2 separate regions of the Homo sapiens genome follow, and region 2 is linked to region 1. A link means that fine-mapping ties the variant in region 1 to the expression of a gene that starts in the linked region. Tissue or cell type: whole blood. Region 1 holds a variant in brackets; the other region holds the start of a gene. All regions are shown on one strand. Distances are from middle to middle.

Region 1 (8,335 bases):
TGCCTGGCCTTCTTTTTTAGCTAGTTGACATGATGGATAACATTGATTTTTGGAAGTTGAACCAGCCTTGCATACCTGGGATAATTCCCCGTTGGTTTAGGTATATAATTATTTTTATACATTGCTGCCTTCAGTTTGCTAATTTATTGAGGATTTTGGGGTCTAACTTCATGAGAGATATTGGTGTGTAGTTCTCTCTTTTTTTTTTTGATACTCTTTGGGTTTTGGTAATAAAAGTCATACTAGGTTCACAAAATGTTTTGGGAAGTGTTCCTTTCTTTTTATTTTCTGGAAAACATTGTATAAAATTGATGTCAGTTCTTCCTTAATATTTGGTAGAATTCTGCAGTAAAACCCTCTGGGTCATGAGATTTCCTTTTGGGGAGTTTTCTTACAAATTTAATTTGCTTAATAGTCACAGTAGATATTCAGAATATCTACTTCATATTGTTGAGTTGTGGTAGCTTAGCTTTTTGAGGAATTGTTCCACTCTGTCTCAGTTGTCAGATTTATATATACAGAGTTTTTGTGTTGTATTCCTTTATCATTCTTTTGATGTCCACAGGGTCTGTAGTGATATCTTCTGTTTCATTGCTTATGTTGATAACTTGCATCATCTTTGTCTAGGGATTTGGCAATTGTATTAATCTTTCCAAAGAATTCGTTCCTTGTTTTATTGATTTTCTTTATTTTGTTGTTGTTTTCAATTTCATTAGTTTCTACCCTCACCTTCCTTCTTGCTTTGGGTTTATTTTACTTTTCTTTTTCTAGGTTCTTATGGTTTAACTTAGATTATTGATTTTAAACTTCTCATCTTTTCTACTGTAAGCATTTACTGCTGTAAATTTCCCTCTCAGCACTGTTTTAGCCGCATCTCATATTTTGATATGTTGTATTTTTATTTTCATTTTGTTCAATGAGTTTTAAAAATTTACTTTGATACTTCTTTGACTCATGGATTGTTTAGAAGTGTTGCTTAATTTCCATACATCTGGAGATTTTCCTGATGTCTTTCTGTTACTGATTTGTAGTTTGAGTCCACTGTGGCGCGAGAACATTTTGTATGATTTCAGTTCTTCTACATTTGTTGAGGTTTGTTTTATGGCCAGTGATACTGTCTGTGGTAAATGCTCCAAAGTCACTTGGGAGGAAAAAAAAGTGTATTCTGTTATTGTTGAGTGGAGTTTTTTTTAATATATGTCAGTCAGTTAACTGCGCTATTTCGTGTTCTTGCTGTAGTTGTATCAGTTGTTGAGGGAGATGGTATTGAAGTCCCCCGTTAGAATTGGATATTTGTCTGTTTCTCCTTTGAGTTCAATCAGCTTTTGCTCTATGTATTTTGGGGCTCTTTTGTTTGGTACATACACATTTAGGATCATTTTGTCTTCCTGGTGAATTGATCTTGTTATCATTATGTAATATTTCTTTTTTTGTTGTTTTTCGAGACATAGTCTTGCTCTGTTGCCCAGGCTGGAATGCAGTGGCGTGATCTCGGCTCCTGCCTCCTGGGTTCTAGTGATTCTCGTGCCTCAGCCTCCTGAGTAGCTGGGATTACAGGCGTGTGCCACCACACCTGGCTAATTTTTGTATTTTTTAGTAGAGACAAGGTTTCGCCATGTTGGCCGGGCCAGTCTCAAACTCCTGGCCTCAAGTGATCTTCCAGCCTCGGCCTCCCAAAGTGCTGGGATTACAGGTGTGAGCCACTGTGCCTGGCCATATTTCTTTTGTTTCTAGTAATTTTCCTTGCCGTGTAATTCACTTTATCTGATATTAAAATAATATTATTTTTTTTTTTGGTCAATGTCTGCAATGGTGTATCCTTTTCATACTTTTCCTTTCAACTTATGCCCTTGTATTTGAAGTGAGTTTCTTGTGGAGAACATATTGTTGGATGATTTTTTTAAATCCACTCAGCCAGTCTCTGTATTTTAATTGGTATGTTTAGACCATTTACATATCAGGTAAATATTGATATGTTGCAACTTAAGTCTGCATTTTATTTGTTTTTTGTCTCGTTACTCTTTTTCTTTTACATCTCTGTGGGTTGACTGCGTGTTTTCAGGGATTCTGTTTAGGCTCATTTATAATGTTTTGAGTGTATTGCTCTGTGTGGTTTTCCTGGTTGCTCTGGGTATCACAGTGGACACATGTAACTTATCACTGTTTGCTGGAATCCACGTTTTACCACTTCATGTGAAATGTAGAAGCCTTATTTCCACTTAGCTCCCTCCCCCTGCCCACATGTTAAATAGTCACGCGCTGCATAATGACATTTTGGTCAGTGATGGGCCACCTGTACAGCAGTGGTCGGGTGGGATTCTCTGGACCTGAACAATTCCTGTTGCCTAGTGAGGTTGCAGCCCTTGTAACGTCACAGGGCAGTGTAATGCCCCCATGCTTGTGGTGATGCTGGCACGAACAAACCTGCTGCACTGCCAATCATATAAAAGGCTCACACACCCAATTAGGCATGGTACGGAATACTTGATAACGACAATAAATCACTGTTACTGGTTTATGTATTTACTATACTTTTTATCGTTAGAGTGTACTCCTTCTACTTATAAAGAGAAGTAGAACTGTCAAAACAGCCTCAGGCAGGTTCTTCAGGAGCTATTCTAGAACAAGCCATCATCATCATAGGAGACGACAGCTCTGTGCCGGTTATTCTAGAACAAGCCATCGTCATCATAGCAGACGACAGCTCTGTGCCTGTTATTCTAGAACAAGCCATCGTCATCATAGGAGACGACAGCTCTGTGCCTGTTATTCTAGAACAAGCCATCGTCATCGTAGGAGACGACAGCTCTGTGCCGGTTATTCTAGAACAAGCCATCGTCGTCGTAGGAGAGGACAGCTCTGTGCCGGTTATTCTAGAACAAGCCATCGTCGTCGTAGGAGACGACAGCTCTGTGCCTGTTATTCTAGAACAAGCCATCGTCGTCGTAGGAGACGACAGCTCTGTGCCGGTTATTCTAGAACAAGCCGTCGTCGTCGTAGGAGACGACAGCTCTGTGCCGGTTATTCTAGAACAAGCCGTCGTCGTCGTAGGAGACGACAGCTCTGTGCCGGTTATTCTAGAAGAAGCCGTCGTCGTCGTAGGAGACGACAGCTATGTGCCGGTTATTCTAGAACAAGCCGTCGTCGTCGTAGGAGACGACAGCTCTGTGCCGGTTATTCCACCTGAAGACCTTGCAGTGGGACAGGATGCGGACGTGGAAGACAGCGACACTGATGGTCCTGACCCTGTGCGGGTTTAGGCTAATGTGTGTTTGTGTCTTAGTTTTTAACCAAAAAGTTTAAAAAGTTAAAAAAAATTAAAATAGAAAAAAACGTATAGAATAAATAAGAAGAAAGAAAATATTTTTTGTACAGCCATACAGTTTCTGTTTTAAGTGTCATTACAAAAGAGTCAAAAAGTTTTTAAAAACCTTAAAGTTTATAAAGTTAAAAAGTTACAGTAAGTTAAGGTTAATACTGAAGAAAGAAAAATATTTTTAATAAACTCAGCACAGTTGGCCAGGTGTGGTGGCTCACACCTGTAATCCTAGTCTTTGGGAGGCCAAGGCGGGAGGATTGCTTGAGTTTAGGAGTTCAAGACCAGCCTGGGCAACATAGCAAGACCTCATCTCTACCAAAAAAAAAAAAATTAGCCAGGCGTGGTGGCGCACACCCATAGTCCCAGCTACTCTGGAGGCGAAGGCTGTAGGATTGCTTGAGCCTGGGAGATAAAGGCTGCAGTGAGCTGTGATCATACCGCTGCTCTCCAGCCTGGACAACACAGTGAGACACTGTCTCAGTTTAGTGTAGCCTGAGTGTACAGCGCCTGTGGCGTCTGCCGTGGTTTACAGTAGTGTCCAAGGCTCTCACATTCACTCACCCTCACTCCCTGACTCACTCAGAGCAACCTCCAGTCCTGCAAGCGCCCTGTACAGGTGTGCCATTTTTACCTTTGATGCTATACTTTCAGTGTGTATTTTCTGTGTTTAGATATGCAAATACTTATCATTGTGTTACAGTTGGCTGCAGTATTAAGTGCAGTCACGTGCTGTGCAGGTGTGTGGTCCAGGAGCAGGAGGCAGTGCCAGGCGGCCTGGGTGGGTCTGGGTTTGTGTAAATGCACTCTGGAATGTCTGCACAATGATGAAATTGCCTTATGATGCTTCTCAGAATGTGTCCCCATTGTGAAGTGGCACATGACTGTATAATTGTTGTCTTTTCTCTTCTTTTATTGAATACCACAGCAGATGGTGTTGTAAT[G/T]TTTACTGCAGACATCAAATACGATTTTGAAAACTCAGGAGGAAAAGGATAATCTCTTCTTCTCATACCTGTTTTTACCCATTCTGGTGTTCTTCTTTCCCTTCTGATGTTCCCATCTATCTTCTGTAATCATTTCCTCTCTGTGTAGAGAACTTTCTTTGGTCATTCTTTCATGGTTAATCTGCTGGCCACAAATTCTCTAAGTTTTTCTTCGTCTGGGAATGGCCTTTGTCCCCGCGTCACTCCGAGGGCATCTCACGGGATGTGGATTTCCAGGTGGTGGCTCTCCTCATCCAGTGCCTGGGAAGCGCGTGTCCCTGCCCCCGGCTTCTGTGTTCCAGCTATGAAACCTGCTGCTGTTTAGACTTGTGCTTCTCTCGAAGGAATGAGGGGTTTCTCTCTGGCAGCTTTCAAGGTTTTTTTCTCTGTCTTTAGTTTTCAGAAATTGTATTACCATACATCCTGGAGCAGATTTCTCTGGGTTTGTTCTATTTGGATTCAGTTGGCTTCTCGCATCTGTGGGTTTATGTCTCTTGGCTAACAGGAAGTTTTCAGCCATCATTTCCTCACATCCTTTTTCAGTCCACTTGTTCTCTCCTGCGATTGCGGAAACTTAGAAATCTGCTCTTTGGTTAGGGTCCTGCGGGTCTCTGAGGCCTTGACCGTCCTCGGTCCGTTTCTGTGTGTTCAGGCAGATGAATTCTGTCTGTCCTCGGGGTCACCGGTTCTGCCCTCTCTCGTCTCCACTCTGCCACTTAGCCCATCCCCAGAGATTTTTATTATGACTGTATTTTTTTAGTTGTATAATTTCCACTTACTTCTTTTATGTAGCCTTTATTTCTTGGCTGAGATTTTCTATTTTTTATTTGTTTACAGAGAGTGTTTGTGGCCTTTTGAAGCGTTTTAGTCATGGCTGCTTTAACACCCTCATCAGATAACTCCAGTATCCGTTCGTCTCGATGTGAAGTCTGGCGCTTGTCTTTTCTCCTTCAAGTTGTGATTTTCCCGATTCTTAATATGATGAGCGACTTTTCGTTGTATCCTGGGTGGTTCGTGTGTTTATTAGGAGGCTTTAAACCAGTGACTCCCCTGGGGAGGGTGGTGTGAGGCCTGGCCAGGGGGTTCTGCTTCCTGCCAGGCCTCCAGCCCCACCCCGGCCCAAACAGCTGGCAAGCGCTTCCTCATGGCAGGCGGTGGGGTGGAAGAATTTTTTAGTATTTGCCTTTTGCCAGATCTTCTGTTACATCTTCCCTGCTGTCGGTAGCTCAGCCAGGCAGGCAGGAAAGTAGAAGGAATGAAGGGCTGTTTACCTGGGTTTTCCAGAGGTTCAGCCCAGGCTAGAGCCCCAGCTTGGCCATGCTCTGGCCGTGCAAGCCCTGGCAGCTTTCTGTGAATTGGGGAGGACGTGGGAACAGTGCCTACCTGGTGGACCGTGGGAAGACTGAAAGAGAAAACCAGGCAGGGCACTTAGTGCAGCCGCTGGTGGAGGCAGTGGTTAGAGTTCACTCGCTAGAGGGTCCTTGTGATAAGAGGGTCCTTATGATAAGAGGGTCCTTATGATAAGAGGGTCCTTATCATGGCCATTTTCCTTTGATCCAGATGTCTTTAAATATCAGAAAAATAACGCTTTTAGTCCCAACCGCCACATCGGAATCAGTTCTTATTCCTTCTGGCTACAATGTCCAACATAAGTTGAACAACATAATTTGGACAACAGAAGGAAGGGTTGTCATGCTAGCCGGAGATGACTTCTAGTTAAGAGGTCTGAGCATTTTCCACGCACAACCAGTTATTCTCAACGGAGGGCGGACTCTCCATACGAAACAAGCAGAGCCCTGGCAGAGACTGCAGGGCATTTGTAAAACTCAAACACCACGTTGATCTCACTGCCACGTTCTTTCCAGTTACACGCAGGTCTAACATGCTGGCATAAGACATTGTCTTAATCAGAACACTTTTAAAGCTTTTTTTTCCCTTTTTTCCAATTCAAAAAATTAATGCAGTACAGGTATTGATCCCACCGAAATTGTTCTAATTCAGTCATGACACTTCATGTTTACAAAGAGTTGATGACTTGGAAAAATACTCTGTAATGCTGTTAAACTTAAGAAACAGAATCGGGCCGGGTGCAGCGGCTCACGCTGTCATCCCAGCGCTTTGGGAGGCTGAGGCAGGAAGATGGCTTGAGAGCCGGGCGCAGCGGCTTCCGCCTGTCATCCTAGCGCTTTGGGAGGCTGAGGGGGGCGGATCACGAGGTCAGGAGATCGAGACCATCCTGGCTAACACGGTGAAACCCCGTCTCTACTAAAAATACAAAAAATTAGCCAGGCATGGTGGCACGTGCCTGTATTCCCAGCTACTCGGGAGGCTGAGGCAGGAGAATCACTTGAACCCAGGAGGCAGAGGTTGCAGTGAGCTGAGATCACGACACTGCACTCCAGCTTGGGCGACAGAGCAAGACTCTATCTCAAAAAAAAAAAACAAAAGAAACAGAAACAGAGTCAGAATTGTAGACCACGTTCCTCCTGACGCTAACACAGAGCTCCCATTTGACCCAGCTGTTCGCTCCTCGGTATTTACCCGCAAGAAACAAAAACACACATCCACATTCAGACTGATACACGGTGGTGATGGGGGTACAACAGTGTGAATCCACCTGATACCACAGAGTTACACACTCAGAAATGGTTAACATGGTACATTTTATTGTATGAGAGTTTCACCACAATGAAAAACTTGTACCTGAATGTTCAAGCAGCATTATTCGTATAGTTAAAAAGTATTAAGAACTCAAATGTCAATTAGATAACAGGTAGATATACAAAACATACTATATTCAGCAAAGGAATATTATTCAGCCATAATATAGAATGAACATTGATTCATCCTATAGCACAGATGAAGCACGATGCTTCTGAAAGAACCGGACAAAAAGTCCACACGCTGTGTGATTCCATTCATACCAACGTCCAGACTAGGCCAGTCCGTACAGACAGGATGAATTACTGGTTGCCGGAGGGTGGGGAGGTTGGGGGAGATGGGGAGGAAGTGCTGATGGGTACAGGGTTTCTTTTTGGGATGATGAAAGTATTCTAACATGGATTGTGGTAATAGTTGTGTAATTTTGTGAATATGCTGGAAACCATTGAATTGTATACTTTAAATGGGTAAGTTGTATGGTAAGTGAATTATATATCATAGCTGTTAAAAATATATACGATATTTTAATTAGACATAGAAGAACATGAATAGAGACTAGAAATATATATATGTATATATAACAAGGTGTTAATGATTTTCTACTAGTAGACTGGTAGATTTGTACTAAGTTTTTTCTACTATATATACTTTTCTGTAATTTAGGAAAACCTCCCTTTCAATTTTAATAACGAGGGAAAATTTATATTTAAAATATCAAAGAAATAAAATTAGTTGCAACATAATAGACTCTGCTTTCTTATTAAGCTTTATTCAGAATTAACCTTGATCATTCCTAGAGGAAAGAACTCTTTCCCTCAAAATATTTCACAGGTAAAGAACAGAACACAGAAGGCTGTAATAAAGCAAAACAGATGTTTATGCCCATATTAAAGACAGAGGCTTATGTTTCTTATTTTATAAAGGTCTCCTATACCTTAATAAGAAAAATATGAATAACTGAGTTTGAAAACAGGTCAGCAGCAAAGCAGCTATTAGACTTGAGTAAAGTAGGAAACACCCACCCTCACACCAAAGAAGGGTGATGGCACCACCCGCCCATCAGACTGGGCACCATTAGAAGCTGGGTGGTGCCCAGGTTGGGAAGTGGGGTACCTTGGGCATCATTGTTGGGATGGGAATTGGAGCAACTTCCTGGCGGCCCACCAGACAGCACCTGTCATAGTGGGAGGCACCCGGCTCCCTTAGTGAGCACCCACTGCCACCATCAGTGGACCCACAGGCTCCTTGGTCACCGCAGCGCCCAAGAACCAGGATGGCCGTGGAGTCAGTGTGAGAACCGGGACAGCCCTTGCATCTGGCTGAGCAAATGATGGTGCGTCCCGCCAGGGAGCCCTTCCTCACCTGTCCGCTGGCC
Region 2 (8,335 bases), 37 kb before region 1:
TGCTAATTAACTATAGAAATATTTTAATACTATTTTAATTTCTAATATGGTCAATATTGATGACTATTACCCACACAAACAAGAACTCTCATTTAAGAATGACTGGGGTTCCAATCATTCTTAAAAACATATAGGAAATGTGCTACATATATACCATGGCATACTACATAGCCATAAAAAGGACCGAGATTGTGTCCTTTGCAGCAACATGGATGGAGCTGGAGGCCATTTTCCTAAGTGAACTGGCGCAGGAACAGAAAACCAAATGCCACATGTTCTCACTTGTAAGTGGGAGCTGAACACTGAGCAGGCGTGGACACAAAAAAGGACCAACAGACACCAGGGCCTGCTTGAGGGTGGCAGGAGGGAGAGGATCCCAAAACTACCCACCGGCTACTGTGCTTAGTACCTGGTTGACGACATAATCTGTACACCAACTCCCATGACACACAGTTGACCTTTATAACAAACCTGCACATGTACCCCTGAACCTAAAAGTTAGAAAACAAAAAACAAACCCAAAAACCACATCGAACTCCTGAGACTAAACACTTAAGAGAATGGCTAATTCAGGTGATGCTAGGCAATTAACATTTCGGCTACTCAAACAATGAGTGTTGAGCATTTGGGAGTCTTGGATCCCTTTTGGAATCTGAGGAGTCACAGGTCCGCCCTCCAGGAAAACATATATGGCCCTCACACGTGCAGGCAGCTTTGCATAAAATTTCAGGGGTTTCACAGATGGCTTAAGCCCATCTGCAAAGTCCTCACAAGGGGAAGGTAGAACTCAGATTAAGAACGGATGAAGAAGATCAGAAGCCTTCATTCAGCCAACTTTGTCTCTTAATGTTCCAGACAGCAGCCATCTCTGCCATCTCAGGCCTGTGGGTCTGTTGCCAAAGCAGACAGCCGTAGGCTGTGTTCCAATAAAACTCAATTTACAAAAACAGACAGCTAGCCTGTGGGCTGTAGTTTGCCGACCCCGATCTAGATTCTAGAGGAATAAATGGAATACATATTCACTACATTATTTCCTGAAACTGAGCTTTTGAAAAGAACTAAACAAAAAATTCAAGGTTGTATTCTCTGGTAAGATCAAATTTAGCTAAATTAAGGCAGATCCCATAGTCTCTGACCGTAAGCTGACAAAAGATACAGCTAGAGTCTTTTTATGAAGTTGACAGCCTTCCCAAGGGAGGGTGAGCAAAGCCAAGAATTACCTCAAAAACCTTAGGATAAAGACAGAAGTGCAGCCCCCAAAATGGTCCACCACCAGGAACAGCCATGACGCCCTTATTATGGAAGTGGTCATCGTTGCTAGATTTAAAAATCTGCCATGGTTATACAACAACATTTACTATATCCATATAACGGAACATAATTCGGCCATAAAAAGGAATGAAGTATTGATACATGCCACATGGATGAACTTTTGACACTGAGTAAAAGAAACCAGGCACAAGAAGCCACACAGTGTATGATTCCATCCACACAGCGCACGACTCCAGCTGCACAGTGTACGACTCCAGCCACAGTGCACGAGTCCAGCCACACGGTGCACGACTCCAGCCGCACAGTGCATGAGTCCAGCCGCACAGTGTGCGATTCCAGCCACACAGTGTACGATTTCACTTATATGAAATATCCAGAATGGGCACATCTATATAGAGAGAAAGGTGAGTGGTAGCCAGGGGCTGGGGCAAGGGAGGAGTTGGGAGTGACTGCTAATGGGTACAGTTATCGTTCGGGGTGACAAAAATGTTTTAGGACTAGATAGAGGTAGTGGTTCCACAAATTTGTGAACGTACTAAACACCACTGAATTGTACACTTTAAAATAGTTAATTTTATGTTATATGAATTTCACCTAAAAAAATTCAACATTGTACCCTCAGACCCTCCAAGACCAATCAGCAGACTAATATACTCTTCGGCGACTGAATTATTTAACCAGCATTATACAACTGATGACTCCACACCAGGAATGTGCAAATCTGGAAGATATGATGGTGTCTGATCTTGAGCTCCTGCCGATAACCCCTTGAAGCCTCCCCTAATGTGTGACAACACCATAACACCAGCAGCCTAATTTCTTGGAACTCTAGAAGAACAGATGCAGGAGCACATGGATCCAGGCCACTCAAAATGGCTTTGAATCACTACTGTTAGCTAGAGTGGACAGAAGTCGGTATCCAGAAACACGAAGAGCCCCCTGCAATCTACTCAAATTGTCTGATGTCACAAGATACTCCAGTAAACCCTGAACCACACGGTGGTGCCAAGGCACTGGTTCTGAAGGAGCAAGAGAAGCTTTGGGGTCTAGGCTTAGTCCATTAACAGGCCTCTGGTCAGTCAACAAAGCTGCAATCATTTGATGTCACCCCTTACAGGTTTCTCCATAAAATAACAGTGATTAAAGCAATGATCGATAGCTAAGTCTAAAGACTAGGTGCTTCATGTCCAAAAGTGACTGAGAGACCCAAGTTACCTCTTGTGAAAAAGGGAACTGGCATAAAGCTTCTTAGGAAACAAAAAGGCTCGTCAACTAAAAAACTACAGGGGAGAGAAGGAAGCCGAGTCCCTCTAGACAGGACTAAACCCAGATCAAATTTACAAAGGCCCAGACATTGGCAGTAAGCTTTGAGTGCACCAAGAGAGGACTGAACCCAGGTCAAATTAACAAAGGCCCAGACGTTGGCAAGAAGCTTCGAGTGCACCCAGACAGGACTGAACCCAGGTCAATCTAATCAAGGTGGATACACTGGAACTAGGGCCGCCCTTCAAGCTCACAACCTTCACTGAGGCTTACCACATCATGCAAATTAAATTATTAAGGCCAGCTTTTAAAGTGTGTACATGGGGTGGGGGGAAGGCATTTTCTAGGTTTCATTATTTCTGTTAAAATGTACACAATTCTTGAAATAAAAATCTGGACAATCCAGTGGAAACAGCAAATAAAATCTCTAAACTATAAAAAAGTCTCAAACACTTTAATTGTGACCTTGTGAAATACGACTCATATAATCTGGCACCAAGGATACCCATATGTAAAATGGAAAGAAATTACTCTTAAAATGTCCTTAGGGTCAACTTACCCGGGGCTGGCGGGCCAATCATGTTGATCGAATAAACTACGTAAGTTTATGGATCACTTTCACTCTGTTTCGGTATACAGCACGCTAGAGGGAGGGGGAGTTAAATTCATCCCTGCTCTTGGATCTCCAACCTCGGCAGCAGTGGAACGCTCCTCTCCAGCATCCTGAACATGTTCAAGTTTTCCCCAAACTAAGTTCCTGTCCACTCTGCCCCTGTCCTCCTAAAAGCTGGAGCAAGCTATCTCTACCTGCCCAGGTGTGCATCCTAACTCAGGCTACCTGGCTCCAGCCCGGCCTCCGCAGTGACCCCTAAAGGTCACAAAAGCTCGGCTGCTGCGGTCAGTGGGATCTTTTCAGCTGCTCTTTTGTTCAGCACTGCTGATGGCTCCCTCCTCCTTTAAACTCCATCCTCTTGGTTTCGACACATTCTAGTGTCCTGGTTTCTCCTACCAGCCCCCTCTCAGTCTCCTTTGTGGCTCTTCTCCCATCCTGAAGCTTGTCCTCACCCTCCACTCCCCTCTACACGTTACCGTGTCCCTTCTCCGGTGGCTCTCTGTGCCTTAGCCAGGACAATCTTTCAGCTCCTATACGTCATCATCGCCTACCACTAAGGGTCTGTGCATTCTGTTTCTTCTGCCTGGAGCCGCACACGGCTGGCTGCCCCGGAACCTCACTTTTTCTCTGGCTAATTTCCAGAGAAATTCTCCACAGTTCAACTCACACCCTCAGCATCTGACACCACTCCCACAGCCGCATCCTACAAGTTCCTGGAACCCGTGCCTTAGCCTTTGTCCCAACTGTGGTCAAACAATTGTGCATCTGGTGCCTGTCTCCCCTGCTGGGGCATCAACTCCCTCAACGCCAAGATCATGCCTGGCCCAGCACCAGTCACACCCAGCAGCACCTTGCTGGCCTCTGAACCGATGTGGACTGAATAAATCCCATCCATCACCATTTCCACCACATTTCAAAGTAACTGATGTGCACCTCCAGCAGCCTCCCTCCTGCGCTGCGGAACTCTACCAGCTCCACAGATGCACACCTACAGCCACGCTACAGCTCCCGGCTAGAGCCCGCGCTAGGGCCCCGCTGTGCCTCTCCCTCCCCTCCCGGCAGCAGGGCCTCCCCCGCGAATCTGAGCTTCTCGCGGATTCCTTCCTTGCGCTGTTTTGGTCAACAGCCTCAGCATCTGCACAGACGCCCGCAGGAGCAGCCGAGCCCTCGCCCGCCTCGACTGCCCGTTTCGAAGCCGCCCTGGGAAGCCCCCGGCCTGGGTTCCCGCTCGGCCCCGGCCCCTGCCCCAAGGCCCCTACAGTTCCTCCCGGCCCCCGCCCTCCGCTCACTCCCGGTCGTCCCTCGCGGCTCCGGGTCAAACCCGCGCTCCCCGCGGTCCCGCGCCTCCGACGCCACCGCTCCGGCTCGCGGGCCCGCGGCGCGTTCCTCCCTCGGATCCACGCGGAACGCCCCGCGCAGCTCGCTGGGCTCGGCCTCCCACATCCAGCGCGCCGCCTGCGCCGACCTTGGGGCCCGACCCCGACCCCGACCCCGACGGGCAGAGGCGACGCCGGGCCACCTACCATCTCCCCCGCGCCGCCCGCTTCTGGCCGGCCCCGGCCTTCTGCGCAGGCGCGGCGGCGGCTCCGCCCTCGTCCTCGGACGGCCGCGGCCCTCGGCTCCGGGGCAGTGCCGGGAGCCGGCCGCGGGGACTCCCACTCCCGGCATGCTCAGCGCCGCCCGGGGGCCCACGGGAGCTCGCGCCCCACAGCCCCTGCGCGTCCAGCCCTCTGCGAGGGCCTTGGCTCGCCCCTGCGGGGTCCAACGCCAGCCTGCGGCTGCCAGGCCCCACGCCGGCCAGGAAGTGCTCGCCGCCCGCGGCCGACGGGACCCGCCCACGCCCCGCCTCTTAAAGGGGGCAGTGACTGCGGCTGGGCGGGAGTCCGGGTCGGCTTGGCTGAGCGGGGGCGGTGCTGGGCAGGGCGGCGGCCGCTCCCTCCCGGACTCCCGGCCTCCCGGCCTCCCTGGTCCCGCCTGGGAAGGGATGCAAGGAAGCCCTCCGGCGCTGCGCTCCGAGGCGGGAGACAGCGTCCCCCTCCGCCCCTCGGGTCCTGGCGCCTCAGAGCCCGGCCCAGGCCGCGGAACGGTGATGCTCGGGCCGGACGGGCGGGCGCGGATCCCTGCGTCCCGGTGAGCACCAGGCCCGTCCATCCGGGGCTCTTTCCCGGGGTCCCCTTCCTTCCCTCCCTCCCTGGGGCTCCCCTCCCCTCTCTCCCTCCCCGGGGCTCACCTTCCCTTCTTCCCTTCCCAAGGGTCCCCTTCCTTCCTTCCCTCCCTCCCTGGGGCTCCCCTCTCTCCCTCCCCGGGGCTCCCATTCCCTTCTTCCCTTCCCAGGGGTCCCCTTCCTTCCTTCCCTCCCTCCCTGGGGCTCCCCTCCTCTCTCTCCCTCCCTGGGGCTCACCTCCCCTCTCTCTCTCCTCGGGGCTCCCCTTTTCTTGCAGGTATTGTCTCCCGGGGTCGGGTGGTCTGTGTGGCCTGGGGTCCCGCTCCTCCAGGCCTTGCCTAGGCGCTCTTCGCTGAGGCCCACGTTCTAACCTGGAATGGAACCTGCGTTCCCACCCTGGCCGCCCGGGTGGACTCGGGGCCTCCAGGGCCGGCCGCAGAGATGCAGCCCTGTCCCTGGCCCCCCTCCTGTGACTCCTAACGGCTCCTCACGGTGTCCATGACCCAGGGTGTGGACGCCTGCGCGGGGGAAGCAAGACCGCTGCGTATCGGGTCCCTATTCACTGCCTGTTTTTCTGATTATTCTGTCTTCCAAATTTATCTTATTTACCGGCTTTTTCAAAAGGAGTGTCTTAATGATTGGATTACTTGTGAAATATTTGTAGTTTTTTTCTCCTACAGGCTTGACTTAAATATTCTAAAGCTTTTTTGTGGTTGTTGAGACAGAGTTTTGCTGTCGCCCAGGCTGGAGTGCAGTGGCTGGTCAAGGCTCAAGCGATTCTCCCGCCTCAGCCTCCCCAGGAGCTGGGGCCACAGGGAGCATCACGCCCGGCTAATTATTTCATTTTTAATAGAGACAGGGTCTTGCTGTGTTGCCCAGGATGATCTCCAACTCCTGACCTCAAGCAGTTCGCCCACCTCAGCCTCCCAGAGCGCTGGGAATACAGATAATTGTGTCGTAATACAGCAGTGGCATTAACCACCGCACCTGGTCTTAGGTAGAATTTGAAAACCTTTTTATTTTGAGATGGTTGTAGATCACATGAAGTTGTAAGGAGTAATACAGAGAAATCCTACAGAGTGCCTTTGCCCTGTTTTCTCCAATGGTAGCACCTTGCAAAACCATAGTATATGTGGGGAATTTTCTTTGATCAAATCCCCTGACCTGTTGAGATTGCACCAACTATACATGCACTAGTGAGTGTGAATCTACACCTGTGTGTCTTCTCAATAAAATTGAGATTTTTTTTCACTCAGCCTTGAGATACATCCGCATTGTTATGTGTATCAATTGCTCAAGATGCAGAAATTCTAAGAATTCATTATTTAAAAAGTAATCCCAGCACTTTGGGAGGCTGAGGTGGGTGGATCACCTGAGGTCAGGAGTTTGAGACCAGCCTGGCCAACATGGCAAAACACCGTCTCTACTAAAAATACAAAAATTAGCTGGGTGTGGTGGCGAGCGCCTGTAATTCCAGCTACTTGGGAGGCTGAGGCAGGAGAATTGCTTGAACCCGGGAGGCAAAGGTTGCAGTGAGCTGAGATCACAACACTGCACTCCAGCCTGGGTGACAAGAGCAAAACTCCGTCTCAAACAGCAACAACAACAAAAAAAACACATTACAGGAATCCAAAGTGTCTTTTTAATAACTAGAACAGCTAAAGATGTTTACTAATTTGCTCAAAAAACATGCTACAATTTAGTAGTCAGTAGGATTTTGGAGGCAAGTTTGAAGATAAAATGAAATGAGTTTGAATAAAGGTGATTTGTATTTTAAGGGTCCATAAATAATTTCAGTTTCATGTTATGAGTATGTTTCAGTGGGAAATTTTAGTATAACTACAACTAAAATCCTCAAAGGTTTCTCATAAAAATTATAGCTCCCTTAGAGGGACAACTAATTTTAGGAACCTGATTGAGGAAGGAACCAGAAATGAACATAGAGGTGTCATTCACACATGAGCTGTGTTGAAACTTATTTTTCTGAAGCATAAAATCCATCAAAGAATCACTTTTTGGGATCTTTTGGGGAAACTGGGAAGTGTAAGCAAAGCATCTCAGATTTCTGTCTTGGTTCTGGAAAATACTAAAAGTTCACTTGTGAAGTAGCTGTTGATTTATTTAGCTCCGTTGGACCAACCGAGAGAAGCTTAGCAGTTGAGTGAGTCATTAAAATAACAGCTCAGCTATATGGCTAGGCATGACTAAGTGATTGCCTCATTGTTTGTTTTTAAGGTGGTAAATGTGTACTTAAAGTTGTACACGTGTACTTAAAGTTGTATTGAAACTAACATAAAATTGAGTGATTGGAACAGCACATTATCATTTATCCTATCTTGTTAGGAAGTTACCTGTTCTAGGTAAGTGAATTCTCTGTGGAGTGTGCTTCTCCTTTTGGGAGTCAGTCTCCAAGAATGTTTTGAATTGAACACTTTCTAACCAGAATATAGTCTTTTCTTGGTGACTTTTGCTTGTAATTCTGATCAGTACTGTTGTCTAACACAGTACTGTCTTCAGGACCTGCTGGGGTGCAGACAGTCGCTGAGCCTTCACCGAGTCATCTGGCCTCCAGGCTTTTTTAGTTCTCCTGTTTGTTTTGCATAAGGTTTGTCTCTTTCTGTGGCTGCCATTTCATGGTTTGGGCAGAATGCTGCCTCCAGAAATGCTGCCCTTACTTTTGCTGCATCTAACCTACTTTGCCTGGGAAACTCGATTAAACCAATTAGAATTTGGGTTAGCAGTGAAATGAAAGTATAGATATATAGATACATCTTTTAGTAACCAGGTTTCCAGGTCGGGGAATCTTTGTAATATGTGATGGTTGAGTAGGAATTCCTGAGTAACAGTCCATTGGATGCTGCTATGAAGAATGGTTAGGTTAATATTTTGTTGTTGTTTACTTTAAACTGTAAATCTGCGTAAGTGGTAGGTGTTGGTTTTGTTGCCTTTTTTGGGATAGCTACTTGTGACTGGTGATCTCCTAGTGGCCAAATTCCACGGACTCTACGTTTATTACTCCTTCC

What was found. PIP is the estimated chance that this variant, and not a neighbour inherited with it, causes the effect.
Region 2: SLC9D1 starts here. The variant in region 1 is fine-mapped to the expression of SLC9D1 in whole blood (INTERVAL, PIP 0.94).

Annotation. Positions count from the first base shown.
Region 1 is chr13:113,522,921-113,531,255 of GRCh38, forward strand. The region is part of intron 8 of SLC9D1 (solute carrier family 9 member D1); the gene reads left to right. Among named protein-coding and RNA genes, the nearest start is that of SLC9D1, 36 kb to the left of the region's middle. The variant G/T (reference allele first, on the strand shown) is at 4,261.
Region 2 is chr13:113,485,996-113,494,330 of GRCh38, forward strand. It overlaps SLC9D1 (solute carrier family 9 member D1), which reads left to right and starts at 5,026. Exons shown (of 13, transcript NM_017905.6): 1 at 5,026-5,278. DCUN1D2 (defective in cullin neddylation 1 domain containing 2) reads right to left here and starts at 4,716. Exons shown (of 7, transcript NM_001014283.2): 1 at 4,672-4,716. The coding sequence starts at 4,674. RefSeq lists an enhancer at 3,887-4,186 and a silencer at 4,417-5,336.